2 separate regions of the Homo sapiens genome follow, and region 1 is linked to region 2. Evidence: fine-mapped expression QTL. Tissue or cell type: whole blood. Region 2 holds a variant in brackets; the other region holds the start of a gene. All regions are shown on one strand. Distances are between the middles of the regions.

Region 1 (8,105 bases), 76 kb after region 2:
AACCACAGCCACAAGTTCGCACTCCAGTGCTGCAGCACCCAGCTGTACTTTGAATTTGCCCTTCAGAGAGGCTCCATCAGCAAAAGTCAACTGGAAAATCAAAGCAAGCAATGCTAAGTTTTTTAAAAACACGCTATGTCAGATGAATTAGAATGTAAAGTAGAAACTCTAGCCTTCGGAATAAATCAATGAGAGGAAGGAAGTAGAGACAAAATGCAAGCAATTACATTCATTCCTTAAAAGAAAAGGTGGTATCTGCCCAAGCTCCCTCCAATTTGAACTATGTTTTCACAGCCTTCCATCTCCTTTTTAAAATCTCTCTTCAACATCCCAGAGCAGCCTCCTCCCACCTGGCCAAGAACCCTCAGGCCATCAACTTGCTTAAAAAAATATGATGGCCCAGATTCTGATCACGTGCACATGACTGACGGCCATTGGATCTTCCCAGGGAGTACTGAAGTTTTATGAGTATTATGATCATAATCCCCTGCATTTATATTAGTTTTCTTTCTAATCTATATTTTCACATAAATTTTTCTTTAATTCTTGGCACTCAGCATGCTGTTATTCCTATTTAACGGTTTAAAAAACTGAGGCTCAGAGAAGCTAGCAAACTTGTCCTAAGTCCCAAAACTTTGAATCAACGGAACTGAAACTGGAGTATAAATGAAATGGGAAAATTTTTAACGACTGAAGGACTGGGGGAAATGCACACAGCAGGGAGGGGCAGGCATGCTGCGGGGAGGCGGAACTAAGCTATTTTTGTCAGGGGGTTACTTAAGCAAATCTGCTCTACTGTGGAAATAACCTCAACTAACTCCCCCTGAGTTTTACACAGCCTCTTTATTGCCTCCACAGCTCAAAACTATACATTCTCTAATTCTAAGACTTATTTTTATTATTTTTAAATACTAATTTGTTCATACAATGGATATCCAGGTGGTACTGTTCTTAAGAGGATTTTAAAGAAGGTACACCCAGTATGTTTTATATTTAACCTATGGCTGCTTCTCAAGAGTGTTTGTAAATTGAGAACTGTCTGTATTGCATGTGTGATGTCATTAAATATATATTTGGTCTGTCCAAAACTATCTGGCATTTGTCCTTTACCAACATTACTGAGTATTTTAGTTTCTCAATCATGCGAGCTTAAAAAGCACAGCCAAATCTAATGAATGTCAAACTTGTGTAGTGACTCAAGTTGATTTCAGTATGTTTAAACAGAAAAAAAAATAGAACTCACAAAGGATCAACTGGAATGAGTATTCACTTTAAAGGAATGCAAAAAGGAATCCTTTTGAACCATTCATTCTCCTGAATATGTTTAAATGTGCATTAATTTAGGTACAACTGCTAAGGAAAACTGTTTATCATATACGAAATATTTCCTCATTAAAAGTAATGGCAAAAACCGCAATTACTTTTGCACCAACCTAACAGCAGACACTTTGAATATGAGTGTAATGTTCTTTGTATGTAACAATGCTAATGCTAAGCTATCTCAAATATCTTCTTTTACCTGTTTTTTTTCCTTCGGTAACTTATCAGCCCTGTCCAATAACAGTTCCTACAATAATGGAACTATCTGTCAGTGCTGTCCATTTTTGAATGAATTAATAAAATTAATTTTATTTAAGTAGTCACATGTGGCTACTGAGCAATTAAAATGCCCTATTGAAGAACTTAATTGTCAATTTTATTAATTTTAATTCATTCAAATAGCCATGTGGCCAGTGGTTGTGTATTGGACAGAGCAGTTATAAGATCTCCTTCAGCCAAAAAAAAAAAAAAAAAAAAAAAACCTATGATTTTATCATTCTATCATTGTGAGGCCAGAATTAAGGCTGTAGTTATTAAACCTCTGATTATTAATTGGATGCTGAAATACAGTTAGCTAACTGAACACACAATTTTAAAGAGGCTGTTTTTGTTCTTAATAAACATCAAAAAAACTATTATGTGCAAAATAACATGTGGGTAAGTAGGATATACACAGACCAAGATTGAACAGACATTTCCTGACGGGGACATTGCTCTCCCAGTTTCTGCTAAATTCCAATTCAGTACATCCTAACAAGACATGGCTGATCAATTGTGTAAGCTCATGCTTTTAACAAGTATTGCTTAGCTCAATAACTCCCATAGCTCTAGGACAAACAACTGTCCTGAGCCCTGGGGACACGCTGTTGCACTCTGTTGAGCCTGACAGAATGCCTGCTCTTCCAGGCACTTACTCTCCTGGGAAGCACAGCCAGGTGAACAGGCCACGAGAATACACCGTGGTCAGTACCACTACAGGGGCAGACCTTGGGTGCCACACGAACACACAAAAGGAGCTTCTAACCCAGTCTTGGCTGGACAGGGAAGGTTTCAAGTGCAGAAAAGAAGGTTCCAGAAGGAAAAAACCAGTAGTATCTTGCTATCAAATCTATCCATTATTTAGGTTTCTTTGGGAAATTTCCTTTTCATTTGGCATTATGTCATCGTCCTTTCAAGGGTATTCACTTTTTGAATACATTTCAATCGATATATATTTATCGAACCCTGAAGACTAAAAAGCCTCATCGTCATTCTCCTGGAGGATTCACCATTTGCTCGGGGCTAAAGGTGTATGAAGACAAACCTTTCTCCTGAGAAAAAAAATGAGTTCTTAGGTCAAATATTTCAATAATCTACCCTTTAAGAAAAATGTAACACTGCCTTGGAATGCATGATTTCTTCATAAGACTTCCTTTTTACAATTGTGTGTGGCTTTCTACCCAAACTAACTTTAAACATCCCTCCACAATAAAATTCAGGAAGGCCACTTTAATAAAACGAGGGGGAAAATCCCACCAAAATGTAAACTTAATATTTCAACACAATTAAATTTATTAATAAAGAATTTCTATTGCATAGTGAACAAAGCATTGGATTTACCTGACAGTTTGGGGTCAAATTCCAGTTCCTCCTCTTAGAGAAGGAATGGCCTTGGGCGAGTTATCTAACTTCTCCAAGCATCAGTTTCCTCATTTGTAAAAGGTCAATAATGGGGTAAGAATAGCCCCTACCTCAGAGTTGATGAGAGAAATGAATATGCACACATTTACAAAGACCTTAAAGTAGTGCGTACCCTAAGCCTTATATGAAGATTATTATTCTTTCTAATTACAATAATTCTAATTGCAGAAATCTATGCGAAAACAATACACAGTTCTGGCCAAAAGAAGTTAAAACAAATGTGAAAAATAAGCGACATCCAGAAACTTCAGCAGCTCCCTTCTGTCCTATGCCTCAAGGTACCAGAGAGGGAAAAAGACCCCCAGGAGAGGCTGTGAGGAAACCTGAACTGCAAACCCACCACGATGTCTTCCTGGGAAAGGCAAGTTGGTAAAGAAAGATGTGAACTCTATTTCAGGGTAGTATGTTTTTTTCATTTGCTTCCAAGACTTTGATGGAATGACTTGAGAGGAAAAGTTCACAATTACTAGAAAGAACCTAAAAGGACATGAGAGATGAAACCGTTGCAGTATTTTTGAAATAAATGTTTTCCTGCAAGAGCAGAGTCATGGGCGGGGTGTCTGTGTAATATCTACTCAACACAGCCGAAGGGTAAGAGGAAATCTTGGTAAGCCGACTTCCAAGTCTTAATGGGGAACCATACGGAACCAACTGCACGCCAAATCCCACGCTCACCGAAGCTTCAGGGATTTTCTTGTGGGTCTGGGGGTTTAATCTGACAGCTCCTAGAGCCTTCAGGACTTCCCGGGCACAGATAATGGGCCGCGACTGCACCCCCGCGTCCCTCCTTGGGGCGCAGGCTTTCCACAGCTACAGTTCTCCACGTCAGCAGCCACGTACACAAGCGCCGGCAGCTGCCAACAGGGCGTGCCCGCTTCCAACCCTGCACTCTCCCAAGCAGGACATCCCTGCACCGCCCGGCGCGTTCGCGAAAACTCCGCGGGGCCTCGAGGCGTCCCGGGATTAGCCCTGACGCTGTAGGGCTCTCTAGGTTTTCCACGACGCAGGGGAGCGTAACTGGAGCGCACCCGACAGCCTCTCAGCTTGCCCAGGCTCGACTGGATGGGGCTTTGCTGGACCCCCGACCCGACCCCCACACACCCGGGCGGCGGGGCCCAGGTACCTGCCAACGCCTCCGCACCTCATCGTCCCCTCTGCTTCCCCTCCTCCCTCTCCCCGAACCCTTCCCCCCTCCTCCCCGCCTCCTCCCCGCCTCCTCTTCGCCTCCTCCTCCACCTTCTCCTCCCCCCGACCCCTGCTCCCACTCTTGGCTCCAAGTCCGCGCGCGGGCTGGGGAGGCGGTGCCGAATGAATCACCGTCACGTGGGTCGCGGGCGCGCAGAGGCGGGCTGCGCCCGGGCGGCTCTGGCGCTCGGAGCGTTAGTGGAAAATTTCCGGAGATCTACTGGGGCTGCGCGCCGCAGGCCCCGCCCGCCGCCTCCCCGCTCCTTCGTATCCCCACCTCCTTTTCCCCCTCCCTCCTCCTTTTCTCTCTTCCCCCGCCGTTTTCCGGTCGCAGCCGGGCCCCGACATTGCGGAGGTTCCTTTCTCTCCGGGGAGCGGCGCTGCGCACGCCCCGCCCGCTGCAGCGCCCCAGGCTGGCGCCGCCAGACCCCTTTGCCCTGGGGCCGCCAGCCCTCGCTTCCTTCGCGCGGCTCCAAGCCGCCACGCGGCCTTGCCCCCGACCTTGCGTGTAGCCTGCTGGTATCCTGAGAGGCCAGGAGCGGCGTCCTGGCGCCTCCGCCTTCGCCTCTGGGGCGCCGCACCCCCGCCACCTCCGTTCCGCATTGAGTGAGACCCCCCACATCTCCGGGCGGAATGTGAGACAAAGGGAGAAGACGGTGACGATGGGCGTCTTGTCTTCTCATTTAGAATTACTGCACCGCCGTTTAAACAAAGCACATGCAAGGCCAATTGTGTTTTACCCACTCCCACTTAACCACTGAGAAAATAAGCTATTTTCTCTATCCCATAACATTCTCCACTTCGTTTTCCCAACCACGAACAAAATTTATTCCTGAGACAGCAACTTTGAGGATTTCGTTGACCTCATCCATGTAGAAGTGACAAATGGTTACACAACAAAATTGTTTCACTCAAAGGGGGTTGTTGTGTACGTGGTTCACCTCAATAAAACACACATTTAACTGTTTCAGCAACTGTTTAGCCCTGGACTGTCGCCCGGGTTAATGTCGCTGAATGGGGTGGGGGGTTGAAAAGTGGCATTAGCGCCACGTGTCCCAAGACGAAGTGACATGGAACCGGAGGCAGGTGCCTTAATCAGTCACGAAGTGCCAACGATGTCAGTCAAAACAGTTGGGAGTTTTATTGAGTAAAGATCTCAGAACCAAGCCCATATATTAAATGGTTCCCATCTAAGAACCAGAATTGCAGGTGTGTTAATTTTAATAAATCGTTATTTCAGTATCTTAGCCCTGGGCAAAGAAAGATCCGGAAACTGACTGAAGGCCAGGAATGTAGGTTCATCGTGGCCTACGAGTGCTTTGGGTAGCACACCTTCTTTCAGTCACTGTCATTTCTCTTTAGACAAGAAGACCCCTAACAAGTATTAAAATAAAGGTATTTTTTAATGATCCTGTTTTGGAAAATTGTAAGGATCTGAAATTTTTAATTTTTTAAAACAATGGAGCACTTCAATAAAACTTCTATTTTCTTTACTAAGAATATACACAGCTTGTTTTTTAGCTTAATTCTTGATTGTTGCTGTGACCTTACCACATTCTGAATAACCTTAAGCATGTATATGAGAATCGTATCTGTGATTTTGCTTTCACATTTCACTTTCCAAGACACTTATTGGTAATTAGCAGGTGTCAGTTTACCTAGCCAAAGAACCATTGTCTATAAATCCTTCATCTCTCTGCCATTGTTTTCTTTCACATTCATTGGCATATACTACACCTAGCAAAATAGACCATTCCAGGGTCAAATGAAAAGGCCAACAGGTAAGTATCACAAGAAGGTCATTAGTCAAGCCGTTATTTCCCCTCTTTTATTTGGGAAGGAGATGGGAGAAACAGAGTTCTGATACTAGGTCCCTGGAAAGTTCTTCAGTCTTGACAGAATTGGGTATGTTTGTACTAAAGTATCTGTAAAACTAAATTTTTTTAAATTTTTTGTTGTTGTTTTGAGACGGAGTGTTGCTCTTGTCGCCCAGGCTGCGGTGCAATGACGCGATCTTGGCTCACTGCAACCTCCGCCTCCCAGGTTCAAGCAATTCTCCTGCCTTGGCCTCCCAAATAGCTGCGATTACAGGCGCCTGCCAGCACACCCAGCTAATTTTTGTATTTTTACTAGAGACGGGGTTTCACCATGTTGGCCAGGCTGGTCTCAAACTCCTGACCTCAGGTGATCCGCCTGCCTCGACCTCCCAAAGTGCTGGGATTACAGACATGAGCCATCGCGCCCAGCCATATTTCTAAATTTTTTTAAGACTGAGTTTCTGTGGGCCCCTTAATTTTCTTTTTCTTGCTGAAAAATGAGGTATGCATTTACAAAATACTGATGCTTGCAAATATATGGATTTACAATATAATATATTTTTTAGGCATTACTATGTTTTCCAGTCCTGGCCAGTGGGATCTGAGACAACAATAACAGCATTTCCAGGAAATGTTATCTCTCAAAATAAAATTAACTCACAAAATGACGCTCCTTTCTTTTGCAATGGATGTGGTCCTGTCTGCCTATGACCCCTAAAACCACTGCAGCCAACATGTGACCATGATGGGAGAGATCCCCAGCATGTTGAAGAAAGCAAAGTGAAAATATAATGAGCTCTTTGTCTTGGAGGGAGGTATCAGGGCCAAGAATTAACCCCAGAACTGTGCTCTCTACATACTTCTTATTATGTGAGATAGTGTCATTATTTAAGCCACTTTCAATTGCATATTGTGTTTATTGCCATAAAATGTTTTCTGGCTGGGCACAGTGGCTCATGCCTATAATCCCAGCACTTTGAGAAGCTGAGGTGGTGGATTGCTTGAGCCCAGGAGTTTGAGATCAGCCTGGGCAACTTGGCTGAAACCTGTCTCTACAAAAAATTAGCCTAGCCAGACGTGGTGGCCTGTGCCTATAGTCCCAGCTACCCAGGAGACTGAGGTGGGAGAATCACCTGAACCTGGGCTCTCTGATCACACTGCTGCATTCCAGCCTGGGCGACAGAGTGAGACCCTGTCTCAAAGTAAAATAAAAATAAATAAATAAATAAATAAATAAATAAATAAATAAATAAAATAAAATAATAAAATAAAAATATTCTTGCTGCTGACAACTTCTCTGTGGTAGCCAGCCTCCAAAATGGCCCCCAGTGATGCTTACCTCCTGGTATGCACTCCCTTGTGTAGTCCCCTTCTATGTTGAATCAGGGCTTGCCTTTGTGACTGATAGAATATGGTAGAAATGATAAAGTGTGACTTCCAAGGCTAGTTCATAAAGGCATTGCAGCTTCTGCCTTGCTCTTTCTTGCTAACTTGCTCTGGGATAAGCCAGCTGCCATGTCATGAAGACATTCAGTCAGGGTTGTGCAGACACCTTCTTGGAGAGGAAGCAACCAGCCAGCACCAACTTACCAACATGTGAATGACCTTGGAAGATCTTCCAGCCCCAGTCATGCCATCAGATGACTAGAGCCCTCTCACAGCTGACTGCAACCTCATTAAAGACTTAAAGCCAGAACACCCAACAGAGCTGCTCTTGAATTCCTGATTCATAGACACTTCGAGAGATAATAAATTATTGTTGCTTTCAGACACTAAGTCTTGGAATAATTTGTTACATAGCAATTGATATCTAATAGAGTATCTGTCAACACCAGAAAAACATGCCAAAGTCAGCAAAGCACTCCCAGAGTCCGTACTGTTGCTTTAGACTTGAGAGCTATCTTACAAGATTGAATACAACCGTTCATTTATCAAGCACTTTCTAAATATGATCCCAAGAATAATATATACAAAATGATAAAAAGAAAAAAAGAGTTGAGACAAGAATTTCCTCAGGCACCTGGAAAGATTAATATTAAAAATATGGAAATGCAACAACATGGATGAACCTCAAGAACATTATGCTAAGTGGAAAAAAGTCAG
Region 2 (8,105 bases):
GTGCTGATTGCACAGGTGCATTCAGTTTGTAAATCCCATCAATACCCTATACTGAAAATTCTAGTAGTAGTTTTTCATTGTCCATACTATTTAGAAGGCATTTAAAGAAATCAATGGGGTGCTAAGCACTGTACAAGCCCCTGTGGAGGTTTCAAACAATATGTAATACATGTGCTTTTCCCTCAAAGAGGTACCTTTCTATTTTCCCATCAGAATAAGTCAGCTGTGATATGGGGGGGAAAGATTGAGAATCTTTGAGGAGTTCTGACACTGCATGTCCATGCATCAGTCCAGGCCGATAGTCACCGTCCTGATCTTTAACTTTCTGAGCTATGTCAGAACTCTAAGATCCTCTGCTCTATAATTCTCTTCTGGTCAAATAGTCATGGTTGTCATTTTGTTCTTTTAGTCTGAAGAAGTCTTTTTGGCACTAAGAATATCAAATTAGGTTGACACTGGAAACAAACGTGATTAAATCATAACAAATCTGTGTAGCTTTTTACCAAAAGACAGGGCCGTAGGACTGAAGAAGGCTGGGACCTGGCACCCTGACTGCTGGTTTATGTTCAATGCCCTGTCACTAGCTTGCATGGCCTTAAGCAAGGCTTATCATTTTTCTGGTCCTCAGTTTTGTTATTTGAAAGTCAAGAGGGCTGGGCTCCCTCCAAATCCCTTCAGTTCTAAATTTCTGTTTCTGAGTTAATTTGTTGAAAACTAAGAAGCAGCAGGACAAAGACTGGTTTTCTGGCTTAAGCCCAGTTTTCTTTCCACCGATATGTATGTTTAAAAAGCAACCTAAATTCAGATTTTAAAATTAATGTTGCCCAGTATGTGCTGGACACTACCATGTGAGGTAGGTATGTTACTCCTTTTTCAGATGAGGAACTGACCATCAGAAAGTTAAGAGACTTGCCCCAGTGTATGTGCCTGATTGATGCCAAAGGCAGAATAAAAAACTTGGTCCTTCTGGCTCCAGAACTTCCCTCTCCCACCAGGGCTTGTAATACATCCAAAAATCAACAAATAGCCCTAAAATAAATCCAATCCTAAAGCAAAAATAGTCTTTCTTTTTCTAGTTGCCTCCAGTTGAGAAAGAAAAACAAGAATTGGGAGTTTCACTTATAAAGATAAAATTTCATGTCATTTGTTAAATTTATAAAACTATATGCAGTTTGTAAAAGGTCTTGCAACGCCTCCAAGTCCCAGCATGTTTTAATACTTGACAAACGTGTTTTCGTTTGTGCTGCACTTCACATTTTATCTGAAGATCTCAATTCTTTGGGGGCATAAAAGACTTTAATGGGCATAGAGTCAAACATCAACAAGGATTTTCTGGGCTTTGCTTTAAAATTTTACTGCTAAATTAGAAAGGCTTACAGATAGAACACTCAACCTGCCATGACATCCTTTGTCGGGTGTCATATATGCTTTGCAGGAGTTGCCACCATGAAAACAACTGCAAGATGCAAAGGAAAATAGCTTTGCAGTGAGGTGCAATGAACAACACTCATAGTAAACTTAGAAACTTTTTTTTATGTTGTTTCAACCAGGCTGATGATTGTTTTAGAACAAGTCTCCTGCCATGGCCTGACACTTGATCCACAGAATTCCTTAAAAGACACTGGGCCAGGCAGACAGTAATATATCATATGCCTGACAAAGACACAAAACATCCTGGATATTGCCATAACTCTCAAGGAGTTGTTAGAGTGGCTAGAGGTCACTTAAGTACTTCTAAAAATACAATGGCATAGCCTTCCTGGGCTTATTTCTTTTAGACACTAGACCATCAATTAATATTTGAGAAACATGCATTATAAAAGTTTGCTCTGAGAAAAATTTACAATATTTAGTCAGTCTTTATCATGTGATTCCTCCGGGCTGAATCTCCCGTTCAATTTCTCTTCCCAGATTCTACCCTAAACTAAATACCGAGGTTTGGGGTTACCACTATATATAATGGGACTATTTTCTAAATCAAGGCTTATGACCCTGCATATTTGTTTTTTTCCTGTGGTTGTAAATTAACAGTATGTTCCCACTACACTTGTGTTCTCACGTATTCCTGTCCCCGCCCTGGCCCAGTGTACTGACCTTACTAAGTGCACAAATAGTGTCTCTTGGAAACTGCTTACATTCAATAGCACTTTCTAGTGTTCCATGTATCATTTGTTAAACATGCTTTTAGAATCTATCATGCCAGAGGCTAGGAGTTACTGATATAACATTAAACAAGTTGGACATAGTGCTGTCCCCACAGAACTGACCACCAGAGATATGACCAGGAGATATGACCAAAGAGATATGAACAGGAACCCTGGGAATACCAAACGGGAGGGAAATCAAGGGTGCAGCAGAAACAGAGTCCAGCAGAAGAGGAATGTTCTCCCATATACAGGAATCTAAATTCTACTTGATATTCTATCTCTTATAAGCACGTGTAGTTCACACCTCTATTTGGGATCCCTATAGAACACAGAGAAAGAGGGATGCTCTACTTCCCACTCATTTGCAAGCTTGCATTTAGGGAGCACTCACCATACAGTGAGTCTGATGTATGCTGTACATAGTAACAGTATACCCTGAGCCAGATGCTGTTTTAAGCCTTTTACATATATCTGTGAATTTTTTCATTTGATTCTTACAACCTCTCTATGAGGTAGTATACAGTAGTGTCTCTATTCTACAGATGACGAAACTGAAACACAGAGAAGCTGAGTAACTTGCCTGAGTTTACACAGCTACTAACTTAGCAGCAGCATTTAAACTCAGACAGCCTAGCTCCAGCCTGAGCTCTTTGGCCCTTCCTTCCATGCCTCTCTACCCCAGCACGTAGATAAGCAAGCACACCATGCCTCTCTTTCCTGCAGGAGCTCTCACTCCACTGGCAAAAGTGGGTATAAACACCTACACAGTGTACAGGGGCTATACTGGAAATATGAATCACATGACTGCAACTCACAAAACAAACTTCAGAAGACATAGTCCACAACACTTATACAAAACAGAACCTATTCTCCATAACAGAAATGGCTACCACTTATTAAGTGCCCCCCGCAAGGTACCTGGCACTTCATTTAAATTATCTCATTGCCTTCTCATAACAACCATGCAAGGGGCATAGTATCACTTCATCTTACATAAGAGGAAACTGAGGCTAAAAGAAATTGTGTGACCTCTTTTAGCTGAAGCTGAGGTCCTTTCCCTATTTATGTAGTCTCCTTAAAACACAATGCTTTGTCCTTACTCCTAAAAAGTGACACCAATGTCAGGTAACTTCATAACTTCTCTTTGATGTAGAAAGTAAGGGGAAGTGTTTCTGTTCAGGCAGTTACCAGATTCACTTCCCAAACTCTGCAACAGGAAGCTGGTGCAAACACACCAAAACATCATGCTCACAGCAGCCTGACTGCTTAGAAACCTCCAGCTCCAGATTATACCCTCCAAGGCTGACGGAAGCACTGCTGAAGGCACTTGCAAGGTATAAGGGTGCCACAATGGAGCGCTCCATCCCAGAGGCGAGGGTGATCCCAGGGACAAAGTGTTTGAAGAGCTCAGCAAATCATAAGGGGGAGGAAGAGGAAGAAGAGGGGAGGGGAGGGACTGGGACAGGATCCTTCCATCAAAATTGTCCTTCAACAACAAAGGTTGCC[T/G]AACCCTTCCTGATCAACGCAACCTCCACTTTTGGCTAGAAAGTGTCCTGGAATGGAAAAGAGAACTTAAGACCAAGGATTTGTATCCAGGATTTTAGAAGAGGAAGAGAAGTACATTTTAGCCCTGAAGTGTGAGACGTATTGCTTCTAAGAATAGAAAAAAGATAAAAATTATAACTGTTTTTAAAACATATACTACAGTTTTATAATAACAGCTGCTTTCCTCCCTCCTCCATCCCCCTCCTGCATAGAAAACACACTAACTGTACTAGTTAAATCCACAGTAATAGGTCAACTTAATATTAGTTTTTACTTTTTTTTTTGAGACACAGTCTTGTTCTGTCACCCAAGCTGAAGTGTAGTAGAGCGATCCCAGCTCACTGTAACCTCCACTTGCCGGGTTCAAGCGATTCTCCTGCCTCAGCCTCCCAAGTAGCCGGAACCACAGGTGCACGCCACCATGCCCAGCTAATTTTTGTATTTTTAATAGAGATGGAGTTTTGCCAGGCTGGTCTCGATCTTGTTGCCTTATGTGATCTGCCCACCTCAGCCTCCCAACATGTTGAGATTACAGGCATGAGCCATTGCCCTCTCTGTAGGGGACAGAAAAGGAGCAAGTCGTTAGACTTTCCAAAGAGTAGAAAAAAGAAAAGAACATGGCAAAACAGCATTTGGTTATCAGCAGGAGCAATGACTCAAATACAAGCATAACAAAGGAAGGGATGTGTGGTTGAGTCAAGAAAGTAGTGACTTGTGTGAAAACCAAAGAGGAGTGAATATTGTTCCTTCTGACCAATGAATGTAGACAGTCAGCGTGCTCGGAGCCTCATGGCATCCTGCTTTCCCCTGGGGCTGCTAGGGGGATTAGGTAAATATAAACGTCTTCAAATAACACAAGATGTGAAAAATAGAAAGCACAGCAAACTGGAATAGTCATCAGATGATATATCTAGGAGAGCTTATTCTGCAAACTAGAATTACAGAATAGAGAGATGTGGTCAATTAAGAGTATTTAAAGATGAGTTTCTATGATGAGGGTAGGTGACAAGAGGGAGTTGTAATCCAGGACAAAGAATCAGAAGAGACCACCATTCTCCAAAGACCAGGTGATGATTTTAATAAACTGGCTCATGTACTATCACCCCAACAGCTAGTTTCTATATCAAAATTAGTTCAAGATTTCAACAGGAGGAAGTGGTTTACAAAAGAATTACCAAGAATCCAGAAGTGTTTAATGGAAAAAAAAATGCTAATGAGGTAAAAGTTGATTTGTGTACTATTTAGACTACGCATTTTTTTTAAAAGGGGGGTGTCCTACCAGCAGGTAGGACCGTTAAAAAAAAGACACTGCTGCAAAATTCCTACACTCCCAGAGTTCTTCATGGCCTGCGACACACTGTCATGAACCTATCTCCTAGACTAGAGCCTCATAGTTACCTACTTAGATAGTGCAGGAATTATGCTCATTTTACAGATGGGAAACTGAGGCACAGAGAAGTAAAACAATTTTTGAAGGGTCACACAGCTAGTAGGTGACAGAGTTAAGTCCACCCTAGAGACTGCATTTTAAATGAGTCACTTGGTGCAATCACAAAAACAATTATTCTATGATCTGGGGGTTTTTCCCTAATGATTATTGAGATATAAACACGTTGCATGACTTTTTTATTTTAATCCTCAGAAAAACACTTTGAGATTTGTAATATTGTCCTTTTGGCACCAGCATTTATTAGGCTCTGTAACTTTAACAGCATCACTTAAAGTGAGGCATCTACTTCAGTTTCCTCCTCTCTTATTTTAATCTTCAGTTATTTTAAGGATTCAACTCATTTATTCATGAAAAGCACTTGGAATAGCACCTGGTACATGGTAGGGTTCTGTTGGTGTAAGCTGTTATCATTACTGCTGTTGCCCTGACCTGGTCAAAAACCTGAACTGTAGACATTCCCTTATTACCACACTAAGTCATCAATTTCTTTCTAGTGTTTACAATGTGCTTCAAAACAAATTAGTTTGCCAAATATAAAAGAAATACACCTAAATGAAAATATATGCCTTTAAATTAATGAAATGTAATTGTCGCTAGAACAGCGACTGGCACAAATTATTAGGTCATTGAATATTTCATAAGTGTATTAACAAATGAATGGGCAGCCGAGTAAAGGAATAAACGATCAAAAGTTCAAACAAGAAAGTGAATAACTAGTGGCTGGGCGCGGTGGCTCACAACTGTAATCCTAGCACTTTGGGAGGCCGAGGCAGGTGGACTGCCTGAGCTTAGGAGTTCAAGACCAGCCTGGGCAACATGGTGAAACCCCATCTCTACTAAAATACAAAAAATTAGTTGGGCATGGTGGCATGTGCCTGTAGTCCCAGCTACTCAGGAGGTTGAGGCAGGAGAATTGCTTGAACCGGGGAGGCAGAGGTTGCAGTGAGCAGAGATCGCACCACTGCACTCCAGCCTGGGCAACAGAGTGAGAATCCGTCTCCAAATAAAAAAGAATATGTAACAAACAAAATTATGAAAGCAAACAAAATTATGAAACTTAAATTAATCTGCAGAGCCTGGGAATAAATAAATAAAAAAGGAATAAAATGGAAAGCAACATTTTTTTATTTTCTAAGAATTGTTTTTCAATATTTCACTTAATTCACTGTAAACCATGTCTCTATTAAATGCAATTAACGTTTTTCAAAAGTAAGCAGTATGAAGTCACATAAAAAGCTAATAAAATCAACATCCAATCATAAGAGACCCTCACTGAAATCTTATTCAAAATTGAGGAAGTCTATAGTCACGTTTTTATTTCATCCTTAATTTCCCACGCTTTTCAAAGAGCCATATTATAACTCTTTCTCAAATATTTGGGAGGAAGTATTTTGATTGTGAAAATAGATGCTCCGAGAGTACCTAAGCCAAATAAATATTTACATTCTGCCTTTTTAGTTGAACAATTGACTTTGTTCTTTAGCATTTAGGTCAAAATACTTAAAAGTTTTAAAACATCAATAACAAGAGGATATGATTTTTCACCAGATAGTCTAAACTTACAGGTTTTAGCAAAACCTTCACAAGAAGGAATTGAGTAATTTAGAAATGTTAATGTACACACACCGTAAAAATAAAAAAAGGGGGTTGGGGTGTTGGCCACTTATTCTTTTTAACTAAAAAAAAGTCTCTCTTCCTCTTCCCTGTGTTTATGTAGTTAAGCCTTGGTGAGCATTTACAACCACTTACATCATTATAATGATAACCTCAATCTGCTGACTTTATGTAGGATTTATATCAAAAGAGTCTTGGAGCTTAGTATGCCTTATTTCATTTTCAGAGCATCCTTGTACATCACCATGTGACCAGTATCTTATCTGTATCATACAAAATTAAAACCAGATGTACTAGGAGACAAAGCAGCTTTCTCAAAGGAGATAAAGTCACATAATTATCAACTTAATGAAACTTGGCTTCAAACTCATGTCTTCTCTTAATACAGCCAAGTTTTTCCCCACTAGATTATTCTTCCTTTATATAAATTTAAGAAGTCATGGTGGCAGCTGAGCAGAAAGAACTGACTACCTGGAAAAACTCCAAGATTTTTTTGAGCTTGGGTTAACCTGACCCAGCAGAAGCTCTGAGACTTGGAAGAGAGGGAAGCAAGGCTATAAGAACTATTCATGTTTTTTGACACTGAGGAACACGTAAATTACTGATAACAGGTCAGCAAAATGAAAGTGTAAAAAAAGTGAGAAACATCAGTGTTTCATAATCAACTTTCATCATGGGCTTCACTGGAAACTCTTCTTCCAACTCTGAGCTGCATATCAAGCCTTGGAGCAAACACTCCTTCCATCTGAACTCTCCCTTGAGTTGTAGGAACTGCTCCTGTGGGTGCTAGAAAACAAGATTCTCCTGAAGCTGACTTAGAGCAGGTGGCTTTGTGTGAGGAAGACTGCAGAGGTGTGTCAGGTGTGTCCAGTTGCACTGAATTGTTCACATTTTTGACACTGGAATTTTGCACATTCTTTGGAAATAAGCCGTTCATTTGGATTCCCACAGTCACCTCTCCCAAGCCTGACTTGAGCTGCCAAGACTGAGTCACCTTCTCTACTCAGTGGGTCATATTACTGGTGGCAGGTTCCACCTGTTTTAGTATTTGCTTGAAAACAAAAGTGATCTTTGAGAGTTGAGTGACAGGGGCTGCTGAGCAGGCTTCCAAACCAATTGTGGGAGAGATCAAGATAACCAGTCACCTACAAGAGGAATTATGAAGACAACTAAGCCAAAAGAGAGTGTTCCAATAGATACCTTTGTCCCAATATCTTTCTTGGGATTAACCAGTGTTGGGCAAGGTTATCAGTTTAAACAGAAGTAGGAGAGGAAGTAAGCTTAAATTGCAGCAGAAAGAATGCTGGTCTGATAGACTGGAGAACTTCAGAACATGTTGGAGGAAAAAG

What was found. PIP is the estimated chance that this variant, and not a neighbour inherited with it, causes the effect.
Region 1: SLC38A4-AS1 starts here. The variant in region 2 is fine-mapped to the expression of SLC38A4-AS1 in whole blood (TOPMed, PIP above 0.99).

Annotation. Positions count from the first base shown.
Region 1 is chr12:46,379,732-46,387,836 of GRCh38, reverse strand. SLC38A4-AS1 (SLC38A4 antisense RNA 1) reads right to left here and starts at 4,161. Exons shown (of 4, transcript NR_125380.1): 1 at 4,142-4,161; 2 at 1-90. RefSeq lists enhancers at 1,095-1,596, 4,290-4,797 and silencers at 4,156-4,225, 4,376-4,735.
Region 2 is chr12:46,455,627-46,463,731 of GRCh38, reverse strand. All of the region lies in intron 2 of SLC38A4-AS1 (SLC38A4 antisense RNA 1), which reads right to left. All of the region lies in intron 1 of LOC124902923 (a long non-coding RNA gene), which reads left to right. Among named protein-coding and RNA genes, the nearest start is that of SLC38A4-AS1, 76 kb to the right of the region's middle. The variant T/G (reference allele first, on the strand shown) is at 3,654.